2 separate regions of the Homo sapiens genome follow, and region 2 is linked to region 1. Evidence: fine-mapped expression QTL. A gene starts in region 1. The other region holds a variant in brackets. All regions are shown on one strand. Distances are between the middles of the regions. Region 1 holds the start of ARHGEF3 (Rho guanine nucleotide exchange factor 3). Region 2 overlaps ARHGEF3 (Rho guanine nucleotide exchange factor 3).

The links.
Region 2: its variant is fine-mapped to the expression of ARHGEF3 in whole blood (TOPMed, PIP 0.98).

The regions. Positions count from the first base shown.
Region 1 is chr3:56,792,757-56,808,867 of GRCh38, reverse strand. It overlaps ARHGEF3 (Rho guanine nucleotide exchange factor 3), which reads left to right and starts at 6,919. Exons shown (of 10, transcript NM_019555.3): 1 at 6,919-7,165. The coding sequence starts at 7,070. RefSeq lists a silencer at 6,750-6,919 and an enhancer at 9,284-9,333.
Region 2 is chr3:56,748,743-56,764,853 of GRCh38, reverse strand. ARHGEF3 (Rho guanine nucleotide exchange factor 3) reads left to right here. Exons shown (of 10, transcript NM_019555.3): 3 at 9,703-9,873; 4 at 11,288-11,350; 5 at 13,458-13,554; 6 at 13,722-13,798. Among named protein-coding and RNA genes, the nearest start is that of ARHGEF3, 45 kb to the left of the region's middle. RefSeq lists an enhancer at 1,025-1,902. The variant G/C (reference allele first, on the strand shown) is at 6,127.

The DNA of each region.
Region 1 (16,111 bases):
TTAACAGCATCCCTGGCCTTTACCTATTAGATGCCAATGGCACCCTGGCCTTGTCCACTGACAATCAATCAAAAATACATCCAGACAGTGCCAAATATCTGCTGGGAGGTAAAATCACCATTGGTTGAGAAGTATTGCTCTTATGAACCAGAGGCTAGCAAATGTTTATGATGTTTCAGGGCAAAACACTTCAATATTATTATTTTTTTGAAAAAACAAAAAAATTTGCTAATTTCATAGCTAATTTTTTATTTTTATTTTAATTAATTAATTATTTTGAGACAGGTTCTCACTCTGTTGCCTAGGCTGGAGTGCACTGGCATGATTATGGCTCACTGCAACCTCGACCTCCTGAGCTCAAGGGATCCTCCCACCTCAGCCTCCTAAGTAGCTGGGACCATAGGCACATGCTACTACGCCCAGCTACTTTTCGGATATTTCTTTTTTTGTAGAGATGGGGATCTCATTATGTTGTTCAGGCTGGTCTCGAACGCCTGCGCTCAAGCAATCCTCCTGCTTCGTCATCCCAAAGTGCTGGGATTACAGGCGTGAGCCACTGTGACTGGCTAATTTATTATTACTATTTTTTTTGCTTTATAGCTGATAATCCACAGGATTAGCTCAGCTGGGAGAGAGAGATACTCTCCTTTAACCAGTTTTTCAGAAAATGAGACCTTAAAGAAAATGCAAGAATTAAGCCTTCCAGCTTTAGACTATCCGGGGATACTTTTTTTTTTTTTTTTTGAGACAGAGTCTAACTTTGTCACCCAGGCTAGAGTGCAGTGGCACGATCTCGGCTCACTGCAACCTCTGCCTCCCAGGTTCAAGTGATTCTCCTGCCTCAGCCTCCCGAGTATCTAGGACTACAGGCACCCGCCACCATGCCTGGCTAATTTTCGTATTTTTAGTAGAGACGGGGTTTCACCATGTTGGTCAGGCTGGTCTTGAACTCCTGACCTCAGGCGATCCACCCGCCTTGGCCTCCCAAAGTGCTGGGATTACAGGCATGAGCCACTGCACCCAGCCCAGAGATACATTTTTGTAAATCTAGACTGGAGTCAGTGGACAGCTCCTCAGGCAAAGGGAGAATAGTAATACTGGTATGAGTTTAGAGATGATGGTTGCTTCATTTGTGCCATTTTTACCTATCTAGCAGTAAATCACAGTCCTGATCTGCCAGAATTCACTGCCAGAACTTCTTTAGGTTCCCTCCCCATCAAAACTGAAATTAGAGAGAGGAGAGGGGGGCTTGGTCATTAACTGGAAATGTCACCCAAATGGAAGGGGAGGGGAAAGGTGTTGCAACACTCATGTGCCCACCATATACCTACACATCCATGCCACTTTAGCAGGTAGAAGAGATGACTTCAGATACCAGGGAAAGCAAACAGAGGTACACATATTGGAGGCCCAGGCTTTCGGGGATCAGCTACTGTTCCTTGAGCTCCTTATTCAAATGTAAACACATAGGTTACAATTGAAAGGCCACATTTTAAAATTGGCCTTATTCTTTGAGCAAGTATGTATTAAACATCTGCCTGGCATAGAAGTTCAGGAATGGGTGGAGAAGAGGAGGGGAGAAATGTATCTAATTGAACACCTGACTGTAATAAGCATTCATTAATTATTTGATAAATGAATGAACGGATGGATGAACAAGCCTTTAAAGAAAAAGGAACTCAGGCCTGGCGCGGTGGCTCCCACCTGTAATCCCAGCACTTTGGGAGGCCAAGGCGGGGCAGATCACTTGAGGTCAGGAGTTCGAGACCAGCCTGGCCAACATGGTGAAACCCCGTCTCTACTAAAAACACAAAAAATTAGCCGGGCGTGGTGGTGTGTACCTGTAATCCCAGCTACTCAGGAGGCTGAGGCGGGAAAATTGCTTGAGGCCGGGAGGTGGAGGTTGCAGTGAGCAAGATCACACCACTGTACTCCATCCTAGGCAACAGAGCAAGACTGTGTCTCAAAAAAAAAAAAGGAACTCGCTATTCCTTATGTTAAAATATAACGCTAATAGGACAAAGCATTGTCCTGTTGGCTGAGAAGGCTGTCACAGCCATGTTAGCTTCTGGTTTTATCCTCAGGCTAGGCCTGCTCTGCTCCCAGTCATGGGACTGGGATTTAAGGAGTTGACAGATGGTCTCCAAGCCATGCCTGGTTGTCTGCAAGTCTAAAAGGAGCTAATAACCAGTGGTGGGCTTCTGTATTCAGGCCTACCATTCCACCAGCAGCCCAAATGACCCCCGCTCAACACAGGCAAGACCACAGGCCCTGTGCTTGGCACAGTTCCTGCAAATGCAGAACAGCCCTCTTTATTTCAGTCTCCAGGCTTCTGGCTGGCAAGGAACACTGCCCGGCTGTGAAGCATTTTATAGGATTATAACGGGCTATGCCGAAGGCAAGTTCTGAAAGACACTTTGTGCCGTTTCTTTGAGTGAAGCTGCCTGTTAGAGCAGTGTTGTTCCTAAGCCCGTAAACACACACACAGGCAGAATGGGGAGCTCTGGGCTCCTGGGGCCACTTAGCTTGGCGGCATTGCAGGACTGGACCAGCTTCCCTCAACTGTGACACTAACCTTAGGGATATGCTTGGAGGCCCTCCTGCAGGGGTGCCTGTTTTCTGACAGTCTTTGTTCACGGACACCCCCAGATAGTGTCTCAGGCAGATTGCCTAAAACCCCAATCTGTCAATGGTGGAGCAGTGCATTACATATGGGGAAGGTGCTGAAGTCAGGGACCAAGGTGGAAATTGCATGAGGTCAGAAATACTCCTGAAATAGCTAATCCTGACCTTAACCTATATACTGATGGAAGTTAAAAAAAAATACTCCTGAAAAATTTGTTAAATGCCTCAAGGACCATATACATGGCTTGTATGCACCCCAAATTGCTGGCTTGAGTTTATAGGCTTTGTTGTACCAAAAATATCTGTATTTAAACACCAGAATCCTATTCTGGATGGTGAGACATTCGTGCTATAAGAAGCTTGGAAGAATCAGACCACCCAAGAGAATTCCAGATTCCCATCTTTCCTTTTGTAGCTTATGCTTTTTTATAGCACTATTTAAATTGTTACAGGCCATTAGTAATCTCTCTGCCTCTGTCTGTCTCTCTTTGCCTAGCATGTATAGTGGAAAAGAGGTATGTTTGTCATATATATGTTGTGTAGCCCTGTGTATTTATTGATTTTTATGGCTCCAGTATATTTTAAGGAAAGCAAAGAAATGTTTTAAGAGAAGATGGATACGGCAGCCTTCTCATCAATCAATATGACTGTTCATTGCTCTGCAATAGTTGTGCTTCAACCTAAGTTGCACTTTAACATTTCTTCGGAGGCCAGGCACAGTGGCTTATGCTTGTAATCCTAGCGCTTTGGGAGGCCGAGGTGGGTGGATCACTTGAGCTCAGGAATTCAAGACCAGCCTGAGCAACATGGTGAAACCTCATCTCTACAAAAAATATAAAAATTAGCTGGGCGTGGTGACGTGTGCCTGTAGTCCCAGCTACTTGAGGGGCTGAGGCGGGAGGATTGCTTGAGACCAGGAGGTTGAGGCTGCAGTGAGCCAAGATTGTGCCACTGCACTCCAGCCTGGGCAACAAAGTGAGACCTGTCTCAAAAAAATAAAATAAACATATTTCTTAGGGTTTGTTTACTGTTACACTGGATTTATGGTATGTCAGACTCCCTGCTTGGCCCTAAGGATACTGCAATGAGCAACCCAGTCCCAGGGCTATCAGACGTCGCCAGGGTGACTATTTTCTTCACCAAGTGCTGTAAGTATATTTTCCAACTTGAGAACACGGCCCAGCAAGCTCTTCTGGGAGTCAAAGCCAGTGGCTTTGATGGCAAATGTGTTCTAGTTGAGATAGTGGACTGTGAGGGCCAGAAGAGCAGGCAGAGAAAGAGGAATAAGAAGTGGCTCGGGTACTTGGGCACAGGTTCTTGGTGGCCAGACAAGCCCTGAGTGACGCATGTCACTGCCTCTGGCCCTGCCTTTGGCTGCATAGTTAATCAGGGGCTACTTGGAGATGAGGTTACTCTCACACCCCCACCAAGCTTGGCTAAGCTTTTGGAGCACTTGTGTGAGCTCCCCATCAGCACAGCTCAGGCTAAAAGGATAAAATTGTGTTCAGGAATACAAATAGGAAAAATCAGTGGTTCTGAGGTGCTCTTTCCTGCCCCATACCTCTTCTGAGACAGTTTTCTTCCTATTGCTTCAGGTTATCTATCGAGGGAAAAAAACTCAGGTGCTCTCTTCAATTTCAGTTGGAACCTCCACCCATTCAGGAGCTTCATTTACATGTGTGGTAATAACAGGCTGGTTACACAGGGCCCAATTCTTTCTGCCTCCAAAGGCAGTTTGTCTGCACTAGCTGGGTAGGAAAGTAAGTGGATTTAGTGTGAGGGTGTGGATTTGATACCTGGGATGAAGAGCTATGTATTATGAGGTGTCCTGCCTGAGAAGTAGGAACTGCTGGGTTCTGACCTCAGCTAGAAGCAAAGAGCACGCAAACAGGGACTGGATATCACCATTCCCACTATCCCCTGCATCCCCAGGAAGTAAAAACAAAAGATAGTGTCTCCATAGATCACCACCTGATGTAGTCATGACTTTCCACATGAGGAGGAAAAAGATTCAACAGTACAGTCTACAAAATAACTTTTGAGAGATGATCATTTTAGGGCTGGGCATGGTGGCTTACACCTGTAATCCCAGCACTTTGGGTGGTTGAGGCAGGTGGATTGCTTGAGCTCAGGGGTTGGAGACCAGCCTGGGCAAACATGGCAAAACCCTGTCTCTACAAAAATACAAAAATTAGCTGGGCACACTGGTCCAGGCCTGTAGTCCCAGCTACTTGGGAGGCTGAGGTGGAAAGATCACTTGAGCCCAGGAGGAGAAGGTTGCAGTGAGCCAAGATCATGCCACTACACTCCAGCCTGGGCAACAAAGCAAGACCCTATCTCAAAAAAAAAAAAAAGAAAGAAAATATGATAATTATAATATTTTAAAAAACTATAATTTCCCAAGAAGTGCCATGAATGAAGGTATTTTTCTTTTTTTCTCTTGAGACAGGGTCTCACTCTGTCACCAGGCTAGAGTGCAGTGGTGCAACCATAGCTCACCACAGCCTTGAACTCTTGGGCTCAGGAATCCTCCCACCTCAACCTCGGGATTAGCTGAGACTACAGGCATGCACTACCATACCTGGCTAATTTTTAAATTTTTTTGTAGAGGCAGGGTCTTGCTATGTTGCTTAGGCTGGTCTTGAACTGTTGGCCTCAAGCCACACTGCTGCCTTGGCCTTCCAAAGTGTTGGGATTACAGGTGTGAGCCACTCTACCTAGCCATCTTTTCTTTTTTCTTTTCTTTTCTTTTCTTTTTCCTTTCTTCCTTCCTCTATTTCTTTCTTTTTTTCTTTTCTTTTTTATTTTTTCTCAGGGTCTCTGTCACCCAGGCTGGAGTGCAGTGGTATGATCTTGGCTCACTGCAACTTCTGCCTCCCAGGCTCAAGTGATCCTCCCACCTCAGCCTCTGGAGTAGTTGGGATTACAGGTGTGCACCACCATCCCTGGCTAATTTTTTGTATTTTTTTTGTAGACACAGGGTTTCACTGCTGCCCAGGCTGTATTTTTCTTATAAAAAATTTTAAAACATGAGCTATAAGCTTAAGTCCCTTTTGTTCACTATCTTTAATTCTTTAAACCCAGGTGCCTCCCTTCAGCCACAGGGGAACTGGTAAAAGCTTGCTGTGGATTCTTGTAGACAGTGTTCAATGCTATTTACCCACAAATATGTCTTTATAGAAAATATATGATATTCTTTGGTAAACTTGTATTTTTTTTTAACACAAATGGTATTGTATTATGCTTAGTCTGCAATTATTTTTAAACTGAGTCTAATACATTGGAGATCTTTCCATGCCACACCCATAGACCCATCTCCTTTTTCACTGCTGCTAAGCGGTATTACACAGTGAAGAAAGTTTATTTAAGCACTCCCTATTGATGGATATATTACCATTGTTTCCAGTTATTTTTTATTTTTTACTGCCCCAGACAGGGCTGCTGCAAACAACCTTAAGATCAATCGCCTTCTTGGGCATTTATAATGTCATTGTTTCTCCAAAAAGGATCCAGAAAGGTGTGGTAGTGCCAGGTCATCCATGCACAGCTTTATACTTGAAGGACACTCTGTCAGATTGCCCTCGAGTGTCAGGCAGCCTCTGAATATGCTAGTCAAATTTAAAAGTTGGTGCAAAGTGGGAAAGGTCTCGAGGGAATTTTCCGGGGGTGGTGGAAATGTTTCGTATACCGACTGTGGAGGTGGTTATACGGGTGTTTACATTTGTCAGAACTCAACAAACGGTACTCTTAAAATGGGTGCATTTTGCCATTTGTAGATTATATTCCACTGACATTCATTTAAAAAACCAAACAAAAACAAAACAAAACAAAAAAAACGTGCAGTGGCCTGGGAACAGGGTAAGAGAGAACACCACCCCTTTCTAATGTGGGCTTTTAAAACGCTCGCTTTTCCCCCCAGGCTCCTTCCTGCCTCCAGGTGTCACTACAGCCTCCTTTCTCCCCGTTGCCCGGTTTCGCCCCAGCCTCCTTTCTACCAGCAGCCTTTCACCCGGAGAGTGCCAAAGAGCCCGAAAGGAGCTATCATGGGGTCTGCCTGCCCCGCAATCGCGGCCCACGCTCTGCGGGGGCGCCCGGAGTCGAATACCAGCGGGGAGAGAGAGGTCCCTCTCCACCCGCGGGACCGCCCCACGCCCCTCGCAGCCCCAGGAGGTGTCCGCGCTGCGGCACGTGGGCCCTCCCGGCAGCGTGGGGCGGTGCCGAGCCGGCGGCCCGCCCCCTCCCCACCCATCAAGGCGTGGCTGGCACGGTCCCGCCCACTCGGCTCCGGAGCCCAGTCGAGTCCTGCCCGGCTAGAAGCCGGCTGTCGGTCTCCGTGTCGCCGCCGCCGCCCGGCATCGTGGAGCTGGGGCCCCCTTTTGCCTGGGAGTTTTGTAGTCGCCTAGGGTCAGCGGTGACATCCCAAAGGGCAGGCCCGGCAGCCGCCATGGTGGCCAAGGATTACCCCTTCTACCTCACGGTCAAGAGAGCGAACTGCAGCCTGGAGCTACCCCCGGCCAGCGGTCCGGCCAAGGACGCTGAGGTAGGGCCGCGCCCTGCACCTGGACCTCTATGGGTCATCTGCCTGTCTCGTCTGCCTCCATCTCCCATTCTCGGCGCCCGTCCAGTGTCACTGTCTCTGTTTCCATCTCTCACTCTCCGTGTGTGCCACTTTCTCTCTCTACATCTCTCCCACAGTCTTCTTTGTGTCTCCCCGTCGCCATCTCTCACCCTGTCTCCTTTTCTCTCGCTTTTTCTCTGTGGACCAAGCACTAGCTGCCTCCTCTCTCCCTGTCCCTCTACCTGCCGGTCTGGGAGCAACTGCCTCCTTGCCTTTGCAGGGCTCTCAGACTGTCCATCTTCTGTCTGGACTCTCAGAGGGACTTTCTCCTACTGTCAGCAAGCCCCAGTGTCAGGGAAGTGTCAGCAAGCCCCAGTGTCGCTACCCTTTAAGCGAGTTTTTTTTGCCTGGGTTGTGAGAGCAGAGGGACGTACCAGCCCTCTCACCTGTCAGACTTGGCCTTGCAGCCCTTTGGCAGCAAAAACAGGACACAGCGCCTCTGCCTATCACCTGTGGCCAGTGAGGGTCATTCAGCCGGGGGGCTGGGGCTAAATGAGTAAATTGGAGTGTCTCCCACATGGATCTTGAAAATGAATTAAAGTCCTTAGGGTCAATGGAAAGCTGCCTTGGAACATTGGAAACATTTCTCTTTCTGGGAACTTTCCTGTGCCTTGCGGGCGATGTGAAGGAGTGCTCCCAGGTTATGTTTAGTCTGCCTTTTCCTCTTGCGTGTTATTTCTCTGGCACATAGCTCACTGGCCTTAAAGGTTGGGTTCAGCTGGAGGAGAAAGCATCCCTCTCTTTGAGGGTCTTAGGGAATACAGTCGCTTTCGCTAGATTACAGCTTTGCTGTGGTCAAGCTGCGGTGGAACCCACAGGACCCAGCTAGTCATTGCCGCTCATGCGTGTATCTGGGAGCTTTCCACTCTCCCACACCTCACTCTGCGAACATCAAACATCACCACCACCACTGGGGAAAGGCTGAAGGCAGGTGTGCATCCGGCCTTGTCACAGCATTCTTGAGGTTCCACCCACTCGCCTTCCTTGGGTCTGCTCAGCTGTATGCACTTGGCTCACTGAATCATGTATATTCGGGAGCACACCATCAAAGATTCATTTCCTCTAGCAAGAGCTGCTCCAGGCTGACAGGACTCCAAGCAGTCTCTGGTTGTATTCAGCTTTCTATACGCTGAGCACAAACTAACTTCTCCCTCACTCAAACCCAACCCTACACTCCAGCTCAGTCGAATATTATCACAAAGAGTTTTTGTTGCCAGCAGCTGTGAAAGTGTGATGGCCCTAGTGGCATTTGCATAGAATTCAGGTTGGTCAGGCCTGGAATGGATATAATATTTTTTCAGTGGGAACTTCCTAATTTAATCAACATAGGAGCAGCGCAATTGGTGCCCACTCAAACTCCACTTGTAAGGAAGAAAGGCATAACCAATAAATTAATAAATTGAAGTGGGCCAAAGAAAAGAATAGTGAGGATAGCTGAGGACTCTAACCAGTCCCTTCCTACTATTACTTAGTCCTGTGTTTTTGAGTAGTTTAGCTAAAGGCTTAGGTAAAACTTGCCTGCTTAATTTCATTTTATTCTTATACATAGAATATAGATATGTCTATATATCACAAATATGAAACTTATCACATGTCAAATATTAATTTTCTTCATTGGTAGCTGGATCTAGACTATAAAATATGACTTATTTTCCTCGTATGGGGATATCCTGATGTGAGAAATAAGGAAGGGGTTGGAATAGTTTTGGAAATAGTTGGTAAATATTTTTCAGATATCACTATTGGGGTTTTTGTTTTTTAGTGTTTGATTTAAACACTAAATCAAGTATGCTTTATACACTTTGAGGCAGAGATATCTTTTAGCTTCATCGATGAGCATATCACTTCCTGATAATGGAAATTGGCAAAATTGGAAAAAGAAACCTAAGTGAGTTTAGTGGGTAGTTTTCTGGTTTCCTTATCAGCGCAAAAGGCAGCCAACCCTTGTAGGCCTAGCTTCTCCATAAGCAGTTAACTAAAATATATTTTCCACCAGTAGGTGTCGTCAGTATTCATAAATTAAAAAATAGCATTCGCTTGTCAGCCTTTTGAAAAACATGATTATATAATTGTTTATAAGCTAGGCATTGACTGTTAATTCCTCTGAAAGTATTTTTTTAAGAGTGATTGTTTTCTTTGTGGAAAGAATGTGGTTATAATAAAAAGAAAAATAGATCTATCCAGAGGCCTTTCTAGGAAAACAGGACTTGTTGACCTTCAAAGGCCGTTGCAACAGAGCACCTGTGCCCTTTAAACATTTAATGGCCGTGTGTAATGGCTGTTCCTTCCGAATTTGCCTTGGGTAGGACAGTGCACACAGCATGGCACTGGGAAGTGCCTTCTAGCATTGACTCCTATCCTTGCAGCAAGTGTACTGGGGAAAATCACTTAGGAAAAGGCTCCTGGGGAACAGGCAAGTGGCATTGATGTGCATTTGATACCGTACACTGAGTAAAAAAATATGCAAAAATAAGCATTCTCTTAAAAGCAAATAAAATTTCTACTCAAGATTTAAGTGATTTGTAATTTTTTATTTGTGGTAGTTTCCAGTGAAAGCAAAAAATGATATTTTTAAAATGTATTTTTATTTTCTTTAAAAGATCTATTTTAAGCTTTTGAAAATATTCTACAGGGATTATAATATTGCATGTCTGTTAGTATAATACTGCCTCTTAATCTGCTATTTCTTATGACATGGGGGTTTGAATTGGTTGGCAAATGTTTAATTTTAATATCCATAATCAGTGAGGTCCTGCTGGCTGTAATCATTAATTGTGAAATCTAAGGAGCTTAGTTCATGGCTCTAGAATTTCACAGAAAAATGTGATATGATACGAGCATTAAGTTTATTTCTTCTGATCTTTGATGCAGCTTTGTTCAGTTTATCTGTTTTTGTATTTATTGGTCATCTACTTCCCATGCCAAAAGGGACTGGTCTACATAGCTGCGCTAAACACCTGATCAAATCACTAAAAGAAAATGTGTTACCTCTAATGAATTATCCTGATTGTAAGTTAAAAATCAATATTTCCCCGTAGTGAGGTTTGCTTTTTAAAAAGAAGGCTTAAAAAAAAAAAAAAAAAAAAACGAAGTAAAGAAAAGGAAGCAAGCTCAGGTAAGGTGCACACATTGGCTAAGGAAGCTAGAGCCTTGTGAGAAGCTTTTAAGAGTTTTAGGTCCAGTTCATTTTTAATCAAAATACAAAGAGGTGTTTCTGTTATTTTTGTAAGAATATATCTGACAACTTGGTGGACAACTTACTTTCAGTTTTAAAATTTACCATCTTAGATATTGGTCAGATTAGGCCTGATTTAGTTAATGGTATTTGTAGCCATTGCTTTTGACTCTCAGCAGTTTTAAAAATTTGTAGTGCCATAGACCATAGGCCTATCTCATGAATAGCTGAATACTGCCCTGGGTCTCCAAAGTATAGGTTCTTATTTTGACTTAGCCAGTAGCCTTGCATGACCCTGAGAATAATGACATGCACCTAGAAATGACAGAGCTCTGCTCCTTTTCTATGTCTACCATGTCTAGTGTCTCACTTGAGACCCCACACTTGTAATAAGGTTAACATAAAGCTTGTACTGTTCTCTCCACTTTATGAATAAGGACACTGAGGGGAAGCGATTTGCAGAAAGCTGCAAAGAAAATCAGCAGCTAAGCCAAGATCCAATGTCAAATTTCCTGATGGATTCCGTCCAGCATTTAATATCAGCATCCCTTGTAGCACCTAAGGGTGTTTACCTTTGTGGGATAAAAGGTGGGGTGGTAGTACAAAACTTAACAGACATGCAAAATACTTTAAAATATTATCTTTTAAGTATAACCTTGAGCACCTTACATAACTGAGAAGGTATCCTTTAAGGCCCACTTCTAAAGGGCAAGGTGAACCCTATGCTCCTGCCACGATTTATGCCTCTATCAGTCAACATGTGCATTTTAAAATTGTATGCACCTCGGGCTGTACTTCTTGAATGCCAGCTGAAAAGCCAGAGGGTTACTGGTTTCTAGTAATCTATACATTTCTTGGAATCTGTATCTTATTGTATTGAACAGATAGTATACCTGAACACACATGAAACTAGTCATAAGGAGTTATTGCAGTTAGAATCCTGTAATTTCTTCAGATGATTAAATAGACTCCAGGAATCATATGACCTCAGAGATCTTGCTGGATGGGAAGCCACACGGAGCTACCCAGAAAAAGGCCATCACTTGCTATAGGATCTGGTTATGGTCATTGAGCCATCATTCCGAGGCTGTTCAGTTGGAAAATTATTTTGGGAATCTTGGTCCTTAAGAATGCACATGAACTAGCAACAGAAGAGGAAAATATGTTGACTTTACATGTGTACATTTAATGCTGTTCAAGGGCATTGACTAGAATAAGACTGCCTGAGTCTCAATGCTGTCTCCACCACCTGCTAGTTGATGTGACCTTGGACAAGCTACTGTGCCTCTCCAAACCTGTTTCCTCAATGGTAAAATGGAGATGATGAGAGCTCTAACTCCTAGGACCATAGTGAGGGTCAAACGAGATGTTTCATATACAGCGCTAACCATAGTGCCTAGCATGTCGTAAGTGCTCAAAAAATGTCATTATTATTAAGACCTTTACATTTCAAAAAAAAAGATTCTTAAAATGGTTTTAAGAAACATGATGATCACCAGCCTAATTTCCTGAATGTTGTTTTACACACAGCAGTGCATTAGGGGCTTTACCGTAAGTCCTTTCATCATCACAGTAATCCTATGAGGTTGGTATTAATGCCCTGTTTTGTAGAAGAAGAAACAGGCTCAGAACAGGGTAGTGGCTTTCCCAGGATGGCTTTAATGCTGGGTCAAGGAGATGAGACTAAAATCCCAGTTGACCCTGAAGTCTGTACTTTTCCAACCACATCACATTGCCTCTAAGTGACTAAATCATTGGTCTTCTCACCTCATAACACGTGAAGGATGAACCCACCTGCCCAAAAAATTGCCTGATGCTCAAAGGCCCATTTTTTTCCTGAGTGTCTGGGTAGGAAACCCCACCATTAGTCAATACTTCTGGCAGCCCACTTCATAGAACGGCTGCAACCCACGGGAGTGGGATTTGCAAGCCCCCATTTGGGAGGGTTTTAGTAATTTTCATTTTGTGTTTCTCAAGACCAAGGAGCTGGTCTTTGGCAGAATTCTGCATGCTTAGCTGTGTGGAGGTGCCACCGTCAGTTCTGTTAGTCATTTTGCTTATCTATATTAACCACAAGCCTTCTGTGTAAACCAATCACTGGAAGGCCCAAATACCATCTGGATATTTGCAAATTGTGTCATTTTCTCGAGACACCCTGTGATTGCCCGTAAAAATCCTGGACAGATGCCACCGTTTTCATAACTACTGAAAGAAAATAAATTACTGATCACAACCTAATTTTGCAAAGCCCTGTGTAAATGTAATTGTTATTGATGATGTGTGTATCTGGAAGGGCTACTTTGTCATGTATGTGTGCAGTTGCCTTCCATAATTTGTCAGCCTTGATAATGGGTAGAGGTCACACAAAATGAGGAAATTGCCGTGACTGCGTTGCCATTTATTCTTATGTTGGCTCATGGACTGTCAGGAGTGAAAGCCAGTGGTTTCTATTGCCTTCCTTTTTTTTTTTTTAATTAGTTGACACCAATAACTAGTTTAGAAGAGGCTGTGTCATGCCCAGTGTGGTGGCTCACGCCTGTAGTCCTAGCACTTGGAGGCTGAGGTGGTCGGATCACGAGGTCAGGGGTTCAAGACCAGCCTGACCAACGGTGAAACCCCATCTCTACTAAAAATTCAAAAATTAGCCAGGCGTGGTGGCACACACCTGTAATCCAAGCTACTCAGGAGGGTGAGGCAGGAGAATCACTTGAACCTGGGAGGCAGAGATTGCAGTGAGCCGAGCGCCACTCCAGTCTGAGCAACAGAGCAAGAGTCCATCTTCAAAAAAAAAAAAGAGAGAGAGACTGTGTCACAAGTTAATCAGGAAAGGTTTCCAAACCTTCTACTGGCTGGGAAAGGAGTGGCTCTTTTTAAGTCTAGAAACACTTGTGCCCGGACTTTCTGTTTGGACCATTGTGTCCTTTTGAGAGAAGGTAGCCCTGATTGTTAGTAAATTTCAGTTAATTGAAGCTGAATGAGAAACCTTAACGGTAAGTTCACTAGACTTTTTTCTTCTTTCTGGCTCTTAAGATGAGGAGGAAAGGAGTAGCAAAACAGGCTCTTTTTTTCTGAGGATTTATGAAGCAAACAAATCCAGCCTCCAGGAAATGACCCAGGGTCATTGCATCAGAGAACTTCAGAGTGGGAAAGGCCTGTTGAGAACATGTAGCCCAATTCTTATCTGCTGCCAGATCCATTCAATCTCTGCTTAACACCTCCAGGGACAACATTTCAGGTTGTATACAGTTGGCCCTCTGTATCCACTCGTTCCACATCCACGGATTCAACCAACCATTGGTCAAAAATATTTGGATCCCAGGACTTTGGGAAGCAGAGGCAGCAGGATTGCTTGAGCCCAAGAGTTTGAGACCATTCTGGGCAACACAGCGAGACCCCATCTCTAAAAAAAAAAAAAATCAAAGAATTCACCAAGCGTGGTAACACACACCTGTAGTCCCAGTTACTTGGGAGGCTGAGGTGGGAGAATTGCTGGAGCCAGGGAGTTTGAGGCTGCAATGAGCTGAGATTGTGCCACTGCAACCCTAGCCTGGGTGAAATAGGGAGACCCTGTCTCAGAAAAAAAAAGAAAATATCAGGGAATAAAACAATAAAAAATAACAATACAACAATTTAAATAATACAAATAAAAAACAATACAGGATAACAACGATTATCACTTACATTGTATTGGATATTCTAAGTAATCTACAAATGATTTAAAGTGTAAGAGGATGTGTGTAGGATATAGGCAAACAGTATGCCATTTTATATCATGGACTTGAGCATCCTTAGATTTTGGTATCTGAGAGGGTTCTGGAACCAATCACCCTTGGATACTGAAGGATGACTGTACTCCGTCTGTGTTCAGTATAGATGATGAGAAAATCCTTTCTTAGTTGTAACATTGCTTCCTGCAGCAATGTTCAGTAATACTTTCTTTTTTTTTTTTTTTTTTTTTTTTGAGATAGAGTCTCGCTCTTATTGCCCAGGCTACAGTGCAGTGGTGCGATCTCAGCTTATTGCAACCTCTGCCTCCCGGGTTCAAGCTGTTCTCCTGTCTGAGCCTCCCGAGTAGCTGGGATTACAGGCACACGCCACCACGCCCTGCTAATTTTTGTATTTTTAGTAGAAACAGGGTTTCACCATGTTGGCCAGGCTGGTCTCGAACTCCTGACCTGAGATAATCCACCCCCCTCGGCCTCCCAAAGTGATAGGATTACAGGCGTGAGCCACCATGCCTGGCCCAGTAATACTTTCTTATGTGTTATCCCTGTAAGTATTTGAAAACCACTCTCTCTCTGCACCTCTCCCACTCCACACTCATGTGCATTCTCTCCTCTCCCTCTCTCCCCTCAGATGTTTTCCTTCTCCTGGCCTGGTATTCCTGGTTCCCTTAACTTTTCCAAATGTGACATACTGTCCTATCTCTTTCCTGTCCTTGCTTATTTCTTCTGGACATCTTTAGTGTGCCTGAAAAACTTGAGTATTAATAAGTGCAAGGATACTGTATGATACTATGTCAACAAACAGGATTTCTTTTAGGCTTAATATGCTTCTTTAGACAAGAGAAGTACACTAATATATTGAAAAAGATTTTTGAAATAAAAATGACAGACTAAAGATTAACATCTTTGTCATATAAATAATTTATACAGATATTTAAAAAATACCCTAAGATATTCATTGACAAATAAGCCAAAGATACTAGAAGGTAGTTCATACACAAGGAACAGTAAAGATTTAAAATGTTCACTCTAGTAGGAATTATAGAAATGAAAAAGGCAATAATAAGGTGCTATTTTATACCTAACTGATGTTGCAACTATTTTTAAGACATAATAAAACCAAGCTGGGCATGGTGACTCACACCTGTAATCCCAGCACTTTGGGAAGCCGAGGCGGGCGGATCACCTGAGCTTAGGAGTTCAAGACCAGCCTGGCCAACATGGTAAAACCCAGTCTCTACTAAAAATACAAAAATTGCTGGGCACGGTGGCTCACGCCTGTAATCCCAGCACTTTGGGCAGCCGAGGCGAGCGGATCATGAGGTCAGGAGATCGAGACCATCCTGGCTAACGCGGTGAAACCCCGTTTCTACTAAAAATACAAAAAATTAGCCGGGCGCGGTGGCGGGCACCTGTAGCCCCAGCTACTCGGGAGGCTGAGGCAGGAGAATGGCGTGAACCCGGGAGGCGGAGCTTGCAGTGAGCCGAGATTGCGCCACTGCACTCCAGCCTGGGCGACAGAGCAAGACTCCATCTCAAAAAAAAAAAAAAAAATTATCTGGGCCTGGTGGCGGGAGCCTGTAATCCCAGCTACTTGGGAGACTGAGGCAGGAGAATTGCTTGAACTCGGGAGGCGGAGGTAGCAGTGAGCTGAGATCGCACTACTGCACTGCCGCCTGGGCAACAGAGTGCAACTCTGTCTCAAAAAAATAAAAATAAAAAAAAAAAAAAACCCAATGCCGTGAATGTTGCAGGAAAATAATACACTTATTGGTGGGGCACAGTGTCTCATGCCTGTAATCATAGCACTTTGGGAGGCTGAGGCAGGCAGATTGCTTGAGCCCAGGAGTTTGGGACCAGCCTGCGCAACATAGCAAGACCTTGTCTCTATTTAAAAAAAAAAAATAAGAAAAAGAAAATAACACACTTTCTGTGCATACTAAAAGACAAAAATTGTTCAGATCTTTG
Region 2 (16,111 bases), 44 kb after region 1:
ACCCGGGAGGCGGAGGCTGCAGTGAGCTGAGATCGTGCCACTTCATTCCAGCCTGGGCAACAAAGCGAAACTCTGTCTCAAAAAAAAAAAAAAAAAATTTGTTGACTATTGTAATTTAAAGCTTGTCATTTTTTATTTAGTAATAACACTCATTAGTGTAGTATCTATGATGAACCAGGTTCTGCACAAAGTACCTTATGTTCATGGCCTCATATCGTCTTCTCCAAAACTCTGCAAGATAGGATTCATCACCACTTATAGGGAGAGATCTGAAAGTTTAAAATTGTACCCAAGGTCACACAGCTGGTAAGTGCCAGAGCTGGGATTCCGTAGGGTGTTCAGAGTGCCTCTCCTGCCGTAGGCTTATCACAAAAAGTCAAAGTTTGGTCATAATAAAGCCTGAAGTTTGGCAGGATTTAAAAATAGTCACCAGACTTTTGAGTTGGAGCATCCCACCTCACTGCTGTTCACCTTCTGTGGCAGGGAGAGTCATCATTTCCATTTCAGCTTGTGGAATATCTTGTCATTAACATTCTCATGCAAAAGCCATTTTATGGTGCCCAATGAAGATGGTTGAGCTACTGCCCCAAGCCTCTGGAAGCCTTCCTAATTTTGGACTTGCACTATGCAAATTGTATAATATTTTCTCTACACCTAAGCCAAATATTTTCTTCAGCTTTTCATTCATTCTACTCAGAATATCTCCAAGCTACAGAAGGGTTTCTTGTTGTACTGGGTCTTTGAGGTTTGACATTTATTGATTATGAATTAATTGGGTGCCCTTTTACCATGGTTTTAATGTGCATCAATCTGAATCAGATTGTAAATATGTGGTTTTATGTTTATTGCACCATTTCTAACTCAGTGTTCATTGTCTTTCATGTTCGTCAACTGACCGTGTTTCTTCTTAGTTAATATTTCTTCATTAAAGAAAGTCTGGAAAATAAATGTAGAGAATTAAAAGATGAAAATAAAAATCAGCCAGGTGCAGTGGCTCACACCTGTAATTCCATCACTTTGTGAGGCTGAAACAAGAGGATTGCTTGAGGCCAGGAGTTCAAGACTAGCCTGGGCAATATAGTAAGGCCCTGTCCCTACAAAAAAAAATAAAATAAAATCAAAAAATTAAAAATAAATAAAATTTTAAAAAGAAAACAAAAATTATCCGTAGTCCCACCATCCAGGGGTGTAAACCTTGTTAACATTTTGTTGTATTTCAAATTGGGATCTTTCTTCTCTCACTTAACTCTGCATGTGAGGCTCTCTCCTTATCATTAAGCTTTTCTCAAAAAGAATGTTTCTTAACAACTGTTTAAGGTTCCCTTTTATTGTTGCAGAGTAATTTGTTTAATCCCTATTGTAGAACATTTTAGGCTGTTTCCAGATCTTTTATAAACAACAGTGTCCTGCTGAGGGCTTTTCTTTCCCTAGGAGTTATCCTAATGGAAGTCCCTCTAGGAGCCATTTGGCCCAGGTAGTTCAGAAAGATGTGTCTGCTGTTTGCTAATTAATGAAAGCACGTATAAACAAGCACTAATAGTGGCAGTGTGGTCTGTGGTATGACAATGATAGGTAACTACCATTCCTGCTGACCGAGTGCCAGGGACTTGGCCAAGCCTCTTGTGTACTTTATCTTATCCAATCCTCACTACAACTTTGTGAGGTACTTATTATTATGCACCTTTTAGAGATGAGGAAACTGAGACCCAGAGAGATGAAAGGTCTCTCAGCCATTGAATCAACTTGAAGCCATGCCTGTTTTACTCCAAAGCCTATGTTCTTCACCCAAATCCATGTTTTGGAGTCAAACAATTGCACTCAGTTCCTATTCCAACACTTAACTTGTGCCACTCACTTACCACTCTGCTACTCAAATTACTCATCCTCTCCTAGGATTAGCATGAGGGTCAAATGTGACAGAGACCACACAGCTGGGAAGTGTTACTTCTCACTTAACATTAATTTCTGTAATGGAGCCTCATAGGAGACTCCTCCAGGATGCTGTTGGTTAACATTTTCCTGTCCTGGCCATTATTGCTGTACATTTTGGTTTAACCCACCGCAGTGGCAACATAGGAGAGTTTTTTCCTCTTACAGTCCCACCCCAACCTCCAATCCCTGATAATAAACCATCTGCTACAAAATAGCAATATGGTTAGCATGGTAAGTGTGGAGAATTTCCTTGGCTTGAATACTTTATTGGAGCATGTTATCTGTGGCTGTGGAAAATGGTTTTTGGAAAAGGGCAAGGGAGGACTCCGCTGAACAGGCGGCATTAACAAATCAGATCTGTCCCATCATGTCTACCTGCTGGGTTTACATTTCCTCTGACACGTGTAAAGCGCACATGCCACCCCCGTCCCCCAACCCCCGGCAGACAGTCTGTTTTGCATCTGCAGCATCTTTTCCACATATCCAGCTTGGGCATAAACTTGAGCACCATTTCCTCAATCTGCATTATCTCTGTTTTATGGTCATTGTTGTTTTAGCTGCCAGCAATTATGAGATTGCAGTTTTTGACTCATTTGCTAGGCCAGATTCCCTCATGGAAACTCTTGCTTGTCCTGGAATATTTTTCACTCCGGTCCCAGCATCCCCACACCCAGGGAGATCTATGTATGTGCTTCTGTTTTTATGTGGTCCTGCCCAAGGCCAGGTCCCTCACTTTGAGGTGGGCCTCTTCTAGTTACCGTGGACTGGCGTTTCTCACCCCAGGAACATTTGGCAATGTCTGGAGGTGTTTTGGTTGTCATAACTGGGCTGGCTGTGCTGCTGGCATCTGGTGGTTAGAGGGCAAAGATGATGCGAAATATCCTACAATGCACAGGAGAGCCTCCCACAATAAAGAATCTCTAGTCCAAAATGTTGTGGTGGCCAGGTTGAGAAACTTTCTACAGGCCAAGAAGTAAACTACAGTTCATTTATTTGGGCACATGTACCCCGCTACACTATGAATCTTATCCTAGGGCAATTAGGGTAGGATATTGGTTAAATATTGGGGCAGGGAGGTTGGCCTGAAATAGACCAGACTTGGATTGTCATTCTGACAGTCACCTTACCACCGGGTTTTAAATAATAAAGCACCATTCATTAGCTGTGTGACCTTCAGCAAAGTGTCACCTTCTCTGAGCCTCAAGTTTCCTTGTCTGTAAAGGGGACAGAATCCTTACCTCTCAGATAAGCAGGGCTCTAAAGCTCCCCTCACAGTGCCCAGCACATAGCAAGCATAACATTTAATCATTAAGCAAAAGTTGTTGAGGTCTTACTATATCAGTTGCTGATGAATCCATCAGTGAATAGAGGAGGTAGATATGCCTGCCTTCAAGGAGTTTACCTTCTATTGGAAGGAAATAGACATGAAAGAAACAAACAAACCTATAAATACAGCACATGTTGAATATAAAAAAAAAAGAGAAGGGCAGAGGGTGTGTAGATGGACAGTGGCAGGGATGCTGATAGGGATGTGGCTGTTCTTCTCTCTAAAGAGGCATCCTCTTGGAGTTTTTTTCTTCTAGTAGTAGTTGCCTGTTCCTCCCTCAACTCTAGTTCTCTCATGTAGTTTTTCCCAGTGGTACTGATGATGGGTTCAGGGGTAGCTCATGGTATGTGGTCAGTGCTGTTATGAACACCTGCCCATCACCCATGTGCTGTCCCCAGACCATACCAGCTGCTGCCCCTTTTCCCCGGGGCCAGACGGCTGCTGACCACTCACTGGTTTGGTATTCTTTTATTATTATTCTTTTTTATAGAGACAGGGTCTTGCTACATTGCCCAGGCTGGTTTCAAACTCCTGGCCTCAGGTAATCCTCCCATCTCAGCCTGTCAAATTGCTAGACTTACAGGTGTCAGTAACCTCACCTGGACAAATGGTTGGCATTCTTTATTCCTCCCTTGGGATTCTTCTTTCAACATCCAGTCCCTTCTGAGTGGAGTAAGAAAAAATGTTTCTTTTAATCCAGCCTAATTAAAGGTGTAAATTTGAAATTTGATTGGTCAGATATCAGCCATTATTCCTAAAACTGAGCAAATGTATTCTCTCTCTTTCCTTAAGTAGATTTATATTCCTAGAAGGCAGGAGCTGGATCCCATCTCATTGAAACTTCCCCAAAATGCATGTCTTGCATGTAAACAGTAGATGCAGTCCCCAAAGTAGAAAGAGCTCAGGCTCTGTTGGAACCAGATCTGGTTTTGAATCTTAGCCTCCCTCAACCTCAGTTTCCTCCTCAGTAGAATGGGAATAAACCCCCAACTTGCAGGGTGGTTGTGAGAATCAGAGAGAATATATCAGAAGTGCTACGTGTAGGCAAAGCGCATAAAAGACCCTCTGTGATATCCCCCATAGTACCCTGAGCCCAGCAATCACTAGGGAAACGCAAAGCAAGAAATTCATAGTGGTAGAGCTCACCTAGTACAGCTTACTGCTCTCTTTTTTCCCATGCCGCAGCAGAAGACAATCTCCAACTCTCTGGGAAATTTTTAAATAAATTAATTAAAATATGCTCAATCTTACCTTCAAAACACAAAACTGAAATTAAGGTATAGTTGTTTAACCTATCAGATTGATAATAATACCTTGTTGATGAGAGTGTGAGCAAAGTGTACTATTATGTACCTATCTGAGGAATATAAAGTTGAATAGCCTATTTGGAGGTCAACTTAGTGGTACATCTCAAACATTAAAATGTTCATACTTCTTAGACCAAGGAATTCCACTTAAGGAATTCCTGCCTTTTAGAAGTATCAGCACAAATACACAAAGCATGTTCACTGAGGCACTTTTTGTAATAGCCAGACACTGGAAACAATTTTAATGTCCATCAGTTGTGGATTGATTAAATCAATAGGTCTGTCCAGACTATGGGAGGGATACTAATTCTGCAGCCATTAAAAAGAATACGTGAATTTGAGGTAATGGAAATGTTTTGGAACTAAATAGAGATGGTAGTTGTACAACCTTGTGAATATACTAAATAGCACTGAATTGTTCACTAAAAAATGGTTAATTGTAGGCTGGGCACAGTGGCTCATGCCTGTAATCCCAGCAGTTTGGGAGGCTGAGGCGGGAGGATCTCTTGAGACCAGAAGTTCAAGACCAACCTGGGCAACACAGCAAGACCCCATGTCTACTAAATCAAAAATACAAAAGTTAGCCAGGCACTTGCTTAGCGGTGGCACTCATCTATAATCTCAGCTACTCAAGAGATTGAGGTGGAAGCATCACTTGAGCCCATGAGTTTGAGGTTACAGTGAGATATGGTTGCACCACTGCACTCCAGTATGGGCAACAGAGCAAGACCCATCTCCAAAAAAACAACAACGAAAAAGTAATTGAGTTATGTAAATTTCACCTCAAGATACTGTCAAGTAGAAAGAGAAAACATTCTCGGCCAGGCGCGGAGGCTCACGCCTGTAATCCCAGCACTTCGGGAGGCCAAGGCAGGCGGATCACGAGGTCAGGAGATCGAGACCAACATGGTGAAACCCCATCTCTACTAAAAATACAAAAAAATTAGCTGGGCCTGGTGGCGGGCTCCTGTAGTCCCAGCTACTTGGGAGGCTGAGGCAGGAGAATGGTGTGAACCCAATAGGCAGAGCTTGCAGTGAGCCGAGATCGTGCCACTGCACTCCAGCCTGGGCGACAGAGCGAGACTCCATCTCAAAAAAAAAAAAAAAAAAAAATTCAGTTTTCTATGAATGTTAACAAATGCATGGAAAAAGTTTGGAAAGAGCTAGAACAAACTTAACAGTTGTTACTTCTAGGAGATAGACTTGGGGAAATGAGGGCATTTGTACTTAATTTTATATACTTTTGTAATGTATGAGAATTTAAAGTTAGCATACATTATTTTCAAACTGGTAGGGGGAGTTTAAAGTTAGCCAAGGACTGAAAATATAACAGGATAGGAGGTTGATTCTCTCAAGTGAAAGTGGAAACTTTCATTTTGAAGTTTTTGTGTGTGTTTCCTTTCTTTCTGCTCTTTAATTCTTAACTCAGCTGCCATCAGAACTGCAAACTGGGTTGAGCAAGTTACTTAATGACTCACTGCACTTGTTTTGACCTTTTAATGCTTGTGGCTAATTGATTCCGAGTGCTGGCGATCTGTGTGCATTTAGTTCCTGGTTACT[G/C]TTTACAAGGGACTGTTTTTAAGAGATCACAAGGATTTGTAAGATACCATTAGTGAACTGTGTATTTGGTGCAAGTACTTTCTTGACCTGCATAGGGCTGGTCCAGCCATCATGAGCTCATTAGTGAGCCCAGGAGCACCCCCACTACTTGTGCCAGCCTAAGGGGCTTGTGTTGCTACTTGCAGAGTGAGCGTCCTGCTTCCAGAAGGTTGTGGTAATACCCTGAAGCTCTTTGGAAGTTTCTTTTTACATTTTTCATTTATTCTTACATATATATCTATATATATTTTTTTAATTTAGAACTGAAATGAGGTCTTGCTACGTTGCCCAGAGTGGTCTCGAACTCCTCAGCTCAAGCCATCCGCCTGCCTTGGCTTCCCGAAGAACTGGGATTACAGACATGAGCCACCAAGCCCCGCCTCATTTTCTATTTTTTTTTTTTTCCTTTAGAGGGAGTCTTGCTCTGTCGCCCAGGCTGGAGTACAGTGGCGCAATCTCAGCTTACTACAATCTCCACTTCACGGGTTCAAGCAATTCTTCTGCCTCAGCTTCCCAAGTAGCTGGGATTACAGGCACCTACCATCACGTCCAGCTAATTTTTTTTGTATTTTTAATAAAGACAGGGTTTCACCATGTTGTTCAGGCTGGTCTTGAACTCCTGACCTCAGGTGATCCGCCCGCCTCAGCCTCCCAAAGTGCTGGGATTACAGGCGTGAGCCACCACGCCCGGCCATTTTAGACACTTTGGGAGGCCGAGGCGGGCGGATCACGAGGTCAGGAGATGGAGACCACCCTGGCTAACACAGTGAAACCCCGTCTTTTCTAAAAATACAAAAAATTAGCCGGGCGTGGTGGCAGGTGCCTGTAGTCCCAGCTACTTGGGAGGCTGAGGCAGGAGAATGGTGTGAACCCGGGAGGCGGAGCTTGCAGTGAGCTGAGACTGCGCCACTGCACACCAGCCTGGGCGACAGAGCAAGACTCCATCTCAAAACAAAAAAAAAAGGCTAAAAATATATAAAGGAGGACAGAAATCACTCATAATGTCAACATGAAACAACAATAGAATTTTGTGATGTTCCCTTTATATCTTTGCTCATGTGCATTTTTTGCATAACTATAAAATGTTCACATATAGATTTTTAATCCTGATTTTATTTTAGGCTACATAGAAGGGGTGTTTACATTTTAAATTATCTCTGAATTGTCTAGATAATATTCCATCCAGCAGGTAATTATAACTTTTTTTTTTTTCTGAGACGGAGTCTCACTCTTGTCGCCCAGACTGGAGTGCAGTGGCACGATCTTGGCTCACTGCAATCTCCGCCTCCTGGGTTCAAGCGATTCTCCTGCCTCAGCCTCCTGAGTAGCTGGGATTACAGGCACATGCCACCACGCCCCGGCTAATTTTTGTACTTTTAGTAGAGACGGGGTTTCACCATGTTGGCCAGGCTGGTGTCAAACTGCTGACCTCAGGTGACCCACCCACCTCGGCTTCCCAAAGTGCTGGGATTACAGGCGTGAGCCACTGTGCCCAGCCACTTACAACTTATTTAACAATGCCCTTATGTTGAATAGTTCCTTTTAAAATTTTTCTTTACTTTCTGGAATTTTATTGTTGAATCTCAAAATAACTGGGAACTACCTTAGAATGCCTTTGTGATGAAGGCTCATATGTCATAAGCAAATTCAATTCCTGACCTCAGGAAGTTTCTAGTTAAGAGCAGGTGACCAATAATTATAATCAAGTATGATCATTGCTATATCAGAAGTATGTCTGAATTGCTCTGGGGGAGGAGGATGGGAGAATGTTGGTGAAGACTTCTTAGAGGAGGTGCTGTTTGAGTTACATCCCGAGGGCAGTTAAGAGTTAGCCAGCTATGGCCGGACACAGTGGCTCATGCCTGTAATTCCAGCACTTCGGGAGGCCGAGGCGGGCGGATCACGAGGTCAGGAAATCGAGAGCATCCTGGCTAACATGGTGAAACCCTGTCTCTACTGAAAATACAAAAAATTAGCCGGGCGTGGTGGCGGGCGCCTGTAGGCCCAGCTACTCAGGAGGCTGAAGCAAGAGAGTGGCGTGAACCCAGGAGGCGGGGCTTGCAGTGAGCCGAGATCGCACCACTGTACTCCAGCCTGGGCGACAGAGCAAGACTCTGTCTCAAAAAAAAAAAAAAAAAAAAAAGCCAGCTATGAAGTGATGGAAACACATTCCAGGAAGAGAAGATTGTTTGAAGGGAGTACAGAGGGATGGCAAAGCATGACATATTTAGGGAATGACAGATAGCCTAGTATGGTTGGAGAAATGGAGGCTCATGGATGAGTGGCAGGATGGGATCCTAAATATGGAGACTGTGGTCAGATTACAAGAGACTTCCTGTGCCAAGATGAGGAGTTGAAACTTCCTGCTGAAGGCCACAGAGAGCCATGGCAGGGAACACTTCCTAAATAACAATGTGGTTTTGGAGCACAGCAACCTCATTGCTTTGGCAAAGTCTCCAATAAGTGTGATGAAATCTTCTAGGATGAAGACTGAAAATGATGCACTCAGCTTTCTTCTGGATCATTTGTATTTGTCATGAAAAGCATTTTGGTAGCATGTTTAAGTCACACAGGTGGACTTCTGCGGCCTCTTTGGGAAATAGGAAAATACCTCAGGGACAGGAATCATGTGCTGCAAAGATGGTATTTAGTATGTGTATTAGTCAGGACTTTTCAAGTTGACAGAACCCCAACTGAGATAATAGAAAGGGAAATGTCTTTCTATATGTAATGAAAATGTCTAAGGGTGGTTCTTTCTGGTTTCAGGCACAGTGGGATCCAGAGGCTCAAGCAGTATTGGTAAAGCTTGCTCCCTTCCTGCCTCCATTGGTCACTCCATCCTTCATTCTGGGTCTCTTTATTCTCTCCTGTAGCAGACAGATGCTTCTGTGTAACTAGGGAGAGTTGCTGCTGGAAGGCCCTGCTTGTGTTCTCTCTTGAACTCACAATCCCAAAGGAATACTCTTTCCTCCTTTCTCCCGTAACTCATGTGACAAATTTCAGGGAATCACATGCCCATCCCTGAACTAGGATGGTGGAATACTCTATTGGTCAGGTCTGGGGGTGCCCACCAAAACTATATGTAATAGGATACCCAAAGTTAGTGGGATTCTATTTATAGAAGGAGGAGAGTAGGAGTACTGGCCAAATGTTTGAATAAATAAAGGCCATCCACTATTGTTATCTCTGGTTCTTTTAAAGAGGGGAGATGTCCACTGGAAAAAAGTAGAGCTCATCACGTATCCAAGAACTGCCTTCATGCGTGAGTTTGGCCTGATATGTGCTTGCACTATAGTCCACTTGGTATCCAGGTCACACAGAACAGATACTCCCAGCACATGTTCCAAAGCAGCCCCCTGTCCAATTTTCCTTAGCACGTAGGCTCAAGACAATGCCCCACTTCCCAAAGGCCTTGTGGCAATGTCCTCTTTTTCTTTCACATATATGATTTATGTTCCGTCAACGACAGGAAACTGCTCAAAGATCCACCCAGTCCTGCCGCTGCCCCCGTGATGGTTTGTTTTTCTCATTGTTTAGCGCTCCATTAGCTTCCGCAGTGAGAGCCGCCCTGACATCCTCGCCCCCCGACCCTGGTCCAGAAATGCCGCCCCCTCGAGCACGAAACGGAGAGATAGCAAGCTGTGGAGTGAGACCTTCGATGTGTGCGTCAATCAGATGCTTACATCCAAGGAAATCAAACGTCAGGAGGTAGGCTCGGGGCCCATGGAGCTGGCTGTGTGTCTGGAACAAAGGTGCATTGCAGCGTCAGCCATGCTGGAATTTGCGCCTTAGTCTCCAAATCAATTCTTCATTGCGTTTGCAGAAGGATAAACAAGAGTGTCTGACCTTGGGGAAGGAACTGAGAAACCAGAAACCAGCTGGGAGGGTGTGGCCCCCACTTTAAAAAGAAACTGATGTGAAAATATGAATTTACAAGAAGATGAAACCAAGTGTCTATTTAGGATTCTGAAGTTCACAAAAATAATCATTTTAGTTATATTTTGTTAGCAACTTATAGACTATTTTAAAATATTTAGTTTACATAGCTTTGATTCAGCTTCATGGAAAACTTCCTTTCTATAGAATCCAGTTAATTTCATTCCCGGTAAGTTTTCTGTATCAGTTGCCCTAAATGACTCTGATAATATTACCCTGTATAGAAGAGCTTGTTTAAGTGCTTGTGCCAGGCTGTGCTGAGCACTTCATGTGTGCATCATCTGATGAGATCCTTGGAGTATCCAGCTCAGGGTTGTGCCTCCACCTGCTTTGTCCTCAGTTTACCAAGCAGCCCCAGGTGGAGGGAGCTTTCAAAGCCTGACCACTGTTTCCCTATATCCTGAAACACAGTAGACCCTGAAATATCGTTACAAACTTGTACTCCTTTAATAATGTAATGTTTGCTGACAGTTTGACTTCCCAGATGGAAGTGAAAGAGTGTTCTGTGCATCATAGCTCTTTAGCATGATGGCTTAATAGAGCCAAATTAGAAACGGTCCATTTACCTACTCTTCCACACAGCCAGCGCCTATAATTTTATTTGTTGTACCTGTGGGGCTGAGAAGTGGTTTAGAATGAATTAACTTCACCAGGTTGTATTTGGAGTGATAAAATGTTGGATTCTTCCTACAATCTCAGCCTCAAGGCAGTGGATAATACAAATAAAACTTTCTGCTGAGATTCGCCTTCTGTCGAGTAGAAGAAAAAGTGGGGATGGCCCAGTTAATAATACTGCCACATCCATTATCTAGAAGAGCCTCTGAATCACTTCTTATGATGGCCTCTCACAACAAGGGTACCAAATCCATGGCTCACACTGTAATTATTTTACCTAAAATAGTTCCCTCTTGTTCAGCTGCATCAAAGTTCTGTAACATGAAAGATGACTTTTTGGACTAGAAATGTGTAGAAACTTTCTCCCACAAACAGAGAAGCACAATATGCAGCAGTTTTGCAATATCTTTTCATTGCAGGTTTAAGCATAGATGCATTTGCTTCAGGTTAACGTAACTTAAAATACTTAAATATGTAAATTTGGGGTTTTGAGTGGTGGAGCCAGCACTATTTGAATATGGTCTTGTAAATGAAGGGAGAATTCAGTGAATATGTTTATCTTTCCTTGCAGGCGATCTTTGAGCTTTCCCAAGGAGAAGAAGACTTGATAGAAGACTTGAAATTAGCAAAAAAGGTAAATTTAAATCCAGCAGTCACTTGAGTCAAGTCACATTTTTTTTCTTGAGTAATTTCACAACCCTAAAGTGGTGCTTCGTGAGAACTGTCTTTATGACTAAGACTGGTCTGCTACCACACACCAAGCAGTGGGGAAAGTGTTTCAAAACAAGAGGGCAGAATAGCTCTCCAGACCTGGCACCTTTAGGGGTTTACCTCTGTATGTCTCTAATGCATGTCAAAGAATACTTCAGCCTAAATCAGAAAGTGTCCATGGAGGCCTCGCCTTATGTATATTTCATTGTCCTAGAAGTCTCATATGTAGGACTCTTTGCCCATAGGAGAGAATGTGTGCATGTCTGAAACTTGAACTGAGTCTTAGAAATAAAGCCATTTGAATCTCAAAAGTGAATAAAGTGAAATGAGGCAATTGCATACTATCATATAAGTTGGGGTCTTTTATATAGGAATTTGTTTTCTAATCAACATTTTGTGTGGGGAGGAGGAGGACAACAAACCTTCCTCAAAAACATTTTCGTTCCAGTGGCACAGCCCCCCAACTCCATGGCTTGGAGGCTAAAATCCAGACTCCTTCATCTGATATTCACAGCCTCCTCGAAGAATCACAGGGTTGGAAGGCTACATCCCTTCTTTTAAGGGTTTTTAGTCTTTCTGCTAAGATGAAATTCCACCTCTAGCATTCCTGAGAGATGGCCACCCAAGCTTTGCTTGGACACAGCCAAGAAACTGAGTTTTAGGCAGAGCTGGAGGAGGAGGAGATCAGAGAGGACAAAGAAGTTATTTCACTCTGAGAGTTATCATGCTGGTGTCTAACTCCCCTTTCCTGCATCAAGATTTGCCAAACTCAAGCACCTTCAGGTGTTTCCCAGCCATCCTTTTGCTTATGGTGGCCCTACCTTCCTAGAAACTTTTCTCTTTCGTTTCAACCATTCATATCCACCCATCCTTCAGGAACCAGCTCAAATCTCAGTTTATTCTTACATAACATTTATTGCCTCCTTCTCTGTACCAAGCAGCTTATCTTCAAAACTTCCCTTGGCCACTCCAGCTTTAATTCTCTGACCTTCTAGAGCAGTTTTGATTTGATGGCTTTTTGCTGTCTTGTGACATCAGTCTGGTTTTTAATCTTTAATTTTTAAACATAAGCCGGGTCCGGTGGCTCACACCTATAATCCCGACACTTTGGGAAGCTGAGGCAGAAGGATCACTTGAGGTCAGGAGTTCAAGACCAGCCTGGCCAACATGGTGAAACCCTGTCTCTACTAAAAAATACAAAAATTAGGCTGGGTGCTGTGGCTCACGCCTGTAATCCCAGCACTTTGGGAGGCCGAGGCGGGCAGATCACGAGGTCAAGAGATCAAGACCATCCTGGCCAACATGGTGAAACCCTGTCTCTACTAAAAAGTACAAAAAAAAAAAGAAAAAAATATTTTTTAAACATAGATTTAGTTTTCCATGAGATCAGAAACTAAAATATAAACTAGAAAATATTTTAGTTTTTCTTATCTTCCCCATTAGCTTTATAAAATTCCTTGAAGGTAGGAGACTTTTAAGTCTTTGTGTTCTATTTTAGTGCCCTGGGTATAACTGTGTATTCTTGTTGTTTAATTTTCTCTAGTAAGAGGTGATAGGATTATCACCTTTGCTCTCTTTGTTCAAATCAGTAGTAAAGGATACCAATCACTGTTTCTTTCCTCTTTTTCTTTATTTTAAATATGTACTAATTGAAAAAAGAATCTGCTAGTAGCTAGTTTTGAATAAAGTGGGATTTTTTTAAGAGGCAGGATCTTGATTTTGAAAACATTTTAACAGTCAAATCTGTTCTATACCTAGGATTTGTGCTCTTTCCTAGATATATGACATACTAGAATAAAAAAGCTTTTGAAAAATCTGCTTTGGTTTATCAACCACAAAGGCTTAAGGCAGTGCTGGTTTCTCCTCTCCTCCAGCCACACCTCTCTGCTGTTTCTGCAGCTTTATGGGAGAAGTTGTTAGAGAGCCAGAAGTTTTGTTATTGGATAGGACCTCTCAGGAGCCACTTACATGAACAATGTACTTCCTCTGATTTTAAACATGTGCTTCCATCTCTTGCCGTTTTTGTGCAGGCCTATCATGACCCCATGCTGAAACTCTCCATAATGACAGAACAAGAGTTGAATCAAATTTTTGGAACACTGGACTCTCTAATTCCTCTACATGAAGGTATAATTTTGTTCCCAGGATGAGTCGTGACTTGTAGCCTTAACTGAGTTGTCTTATAATGAGTGAGTGATTATTAATTGCCTGCAATGTGAATAACCCAGAACCTACTTCCAGCCCTGTTCATATTTGAATGCCTAACAAATAAGCATCTGTTTGTTTTTTGCCAGAGCTCCTTAGTCAGCTTCGAGATGTTAGGAAGCCTGATGGCTCGACTGAACATGTTGGTCCCATCCTCGTGGGCTGGGTAAGAAAGTTCTCTGGTCTTTATTGAAGATAAATTTCAATAATATAGATGGGAGTTTCATTTTAGCTAGACTTTTTTTATTTTTATTTTTATTTTTTTACAAATGTTGGTTTCACATCAGAAAAAAAAATCCTAGTAAAATTTTAATTAAATTTAAGTTTTGTATCTTTAAAGCATGAAAATAGTTTTTTTCTTATTACAAATTTATTGCATTTAAAAGTAACAGGGCCTTTTGGAACAAAATAAGTAAAGGTACACATGAAACTATTACTAGTTTCGTATCAAAATAAAACTAGTTAATATTCCGTCAGGCCAATCGCTAACATAATATACTCCAATAAAAATTTATTGACATATATCCACTACCAAAAAAAAAAAAAAAAAACTTGTCATGCTATTAAAAAAAAATTCTCATGGTCAAAATGCAGTTTTATAAACAAGATCATAAGTAAAGGTTGCTAATGTTTAGCATATTAAAAAAAACTTTTTAGGCCATAAAAAAAATCTCATGGTCAAAATGTAGTTTTATAAACAAGATAATAAGTAAAGGTTGCTAATGTTTAGCATATATACCATGCTAAGTAATTTATAGGAGAGCTGGGTATATGGTGACCTTCATCCTAATATAATCCATTCCTTTTCCTAATTAAATAAAAAGAAGTAAGCTGTGATCTTAGATTAGGAGTCATAAATTTATGATCCTGGGGCTGGATTTGTGTTTTATTGTGTACTTAAAGTTGTTTGTTTCACTTACGCTAGACAAGGCGTGTGCTCTTATTTTGCCTCAGTCCCCACCGCTCCCTATTCTACACATTTATGTTTCCTTCTGTGAGTGCTTGAATGGTCCACCCCAGTTCCAGGTGTTTTTCATTTGTTATAAAGCAGATAATGAGAGGAGATTACTTTGCTGACTTATTCCAGGCAAGATTAGGTCTCTCATCACTCTGTTGCTCACAGTATTCCAGAAAAATAGGCAGGAAGTACCACAACAGCTAATATTAGAGATTATTTCACTGTTTGGAGAGTGTTGTGAAGGTTATAAATCCTACTGTTGCTATGTGAGTTCTCTTTATTCCGTTACATCTGCATTTTAATCTTCCTAAAACCTTTCAGTTAACATGCCTTGATAACACATAGATGTGCAGAAAGTTTTAACATTGATCTTTTAACTTACGTTTCTCAATGACTGCCTTGATCAAGATACTTGATGAGAGTTTCATGACTTAAATAGCTTTAGTTCAGGAGTCAATTTTAGCACCAAGGCTGAAATATCCCAAAGGTATCCGAAAGGCAAGTAATGTTCTAAGATGAATAATTTAGAAAATATGCCTTAATATTTCAAGAGAGATCATTCATCTTATATTTTTGACTTTCATTTTATTATGAGCCATCGTAGATGTTTTAACTTCTTTAGCCCACAAAGAAATTTCTCCAAAGAGAGCCAGCCAACCGGAGACAGACAGAGACAAAGAAGGTATAATGAGTAGAGAGTGCCTCAGTGTCTCTTAAACTTCCTGAGTCTGTGGACTGCTTTGATATGGGGGTAAATGGAGCAGTTAGGCCACACTCCAGAATTTGTAGGATAACTCCTCTGCTTTTGATGAGACAGCAGTACAGGACTACATGGTTTCCTTAAGCATCATATGCAAATTGTCAGTTTATGCCAGAAGCAAAATTGTAGGAATTTGCCTTGTTAGTAACTTTTTGCTGAAATAAACATTTGTCACGTTTATTAGAAAATTGGTTTGATCTGGGAGCAGCTTTGCAGTCATTTTCTGTACATACCCAAAGGAAGTGTGACCATGCTGGCCCATTGCTATCTGGATGCTTCAGACATCAAATGAGGACTTGGATCTTGAAGAGCAGCCTAAAATTAAACAACTGGCCCGTTGTTGCCAGACTTCGTGAGAAATGGCCCTTATTTATCAGGCCTGACAAGCTGTTAAATGTTTTTCCTCTTTTAACTGCAGATGTGTCCGTCTGAGTGGGAACAGTAAACCTAGGGGTACATATGTTTGAGTTCTTGTATTTTTAACAGAACAAAATAAACATCTTAGTGGACTTTGGATGAGAAGAGTCCCATTCGACCCATGAAAAATTGATTTATTTTCTCCGCAAAGGAAAAAAGGGGGGTGGGGGGGAACCCTTTTAAACAAGTGAGCCTTCCAAGTGGGACAGCCCTGGCCAGTCCTTTTGACCTTAGAATGAATCAATTACTTTTACTTTGAAGACCTTAAACAGAGTGGTTGCTTTTTTTCAGGGAACTACCCCGGTTACTGAGAATCAGTGTCCCCGCTCCCTAATGGGTCAGCC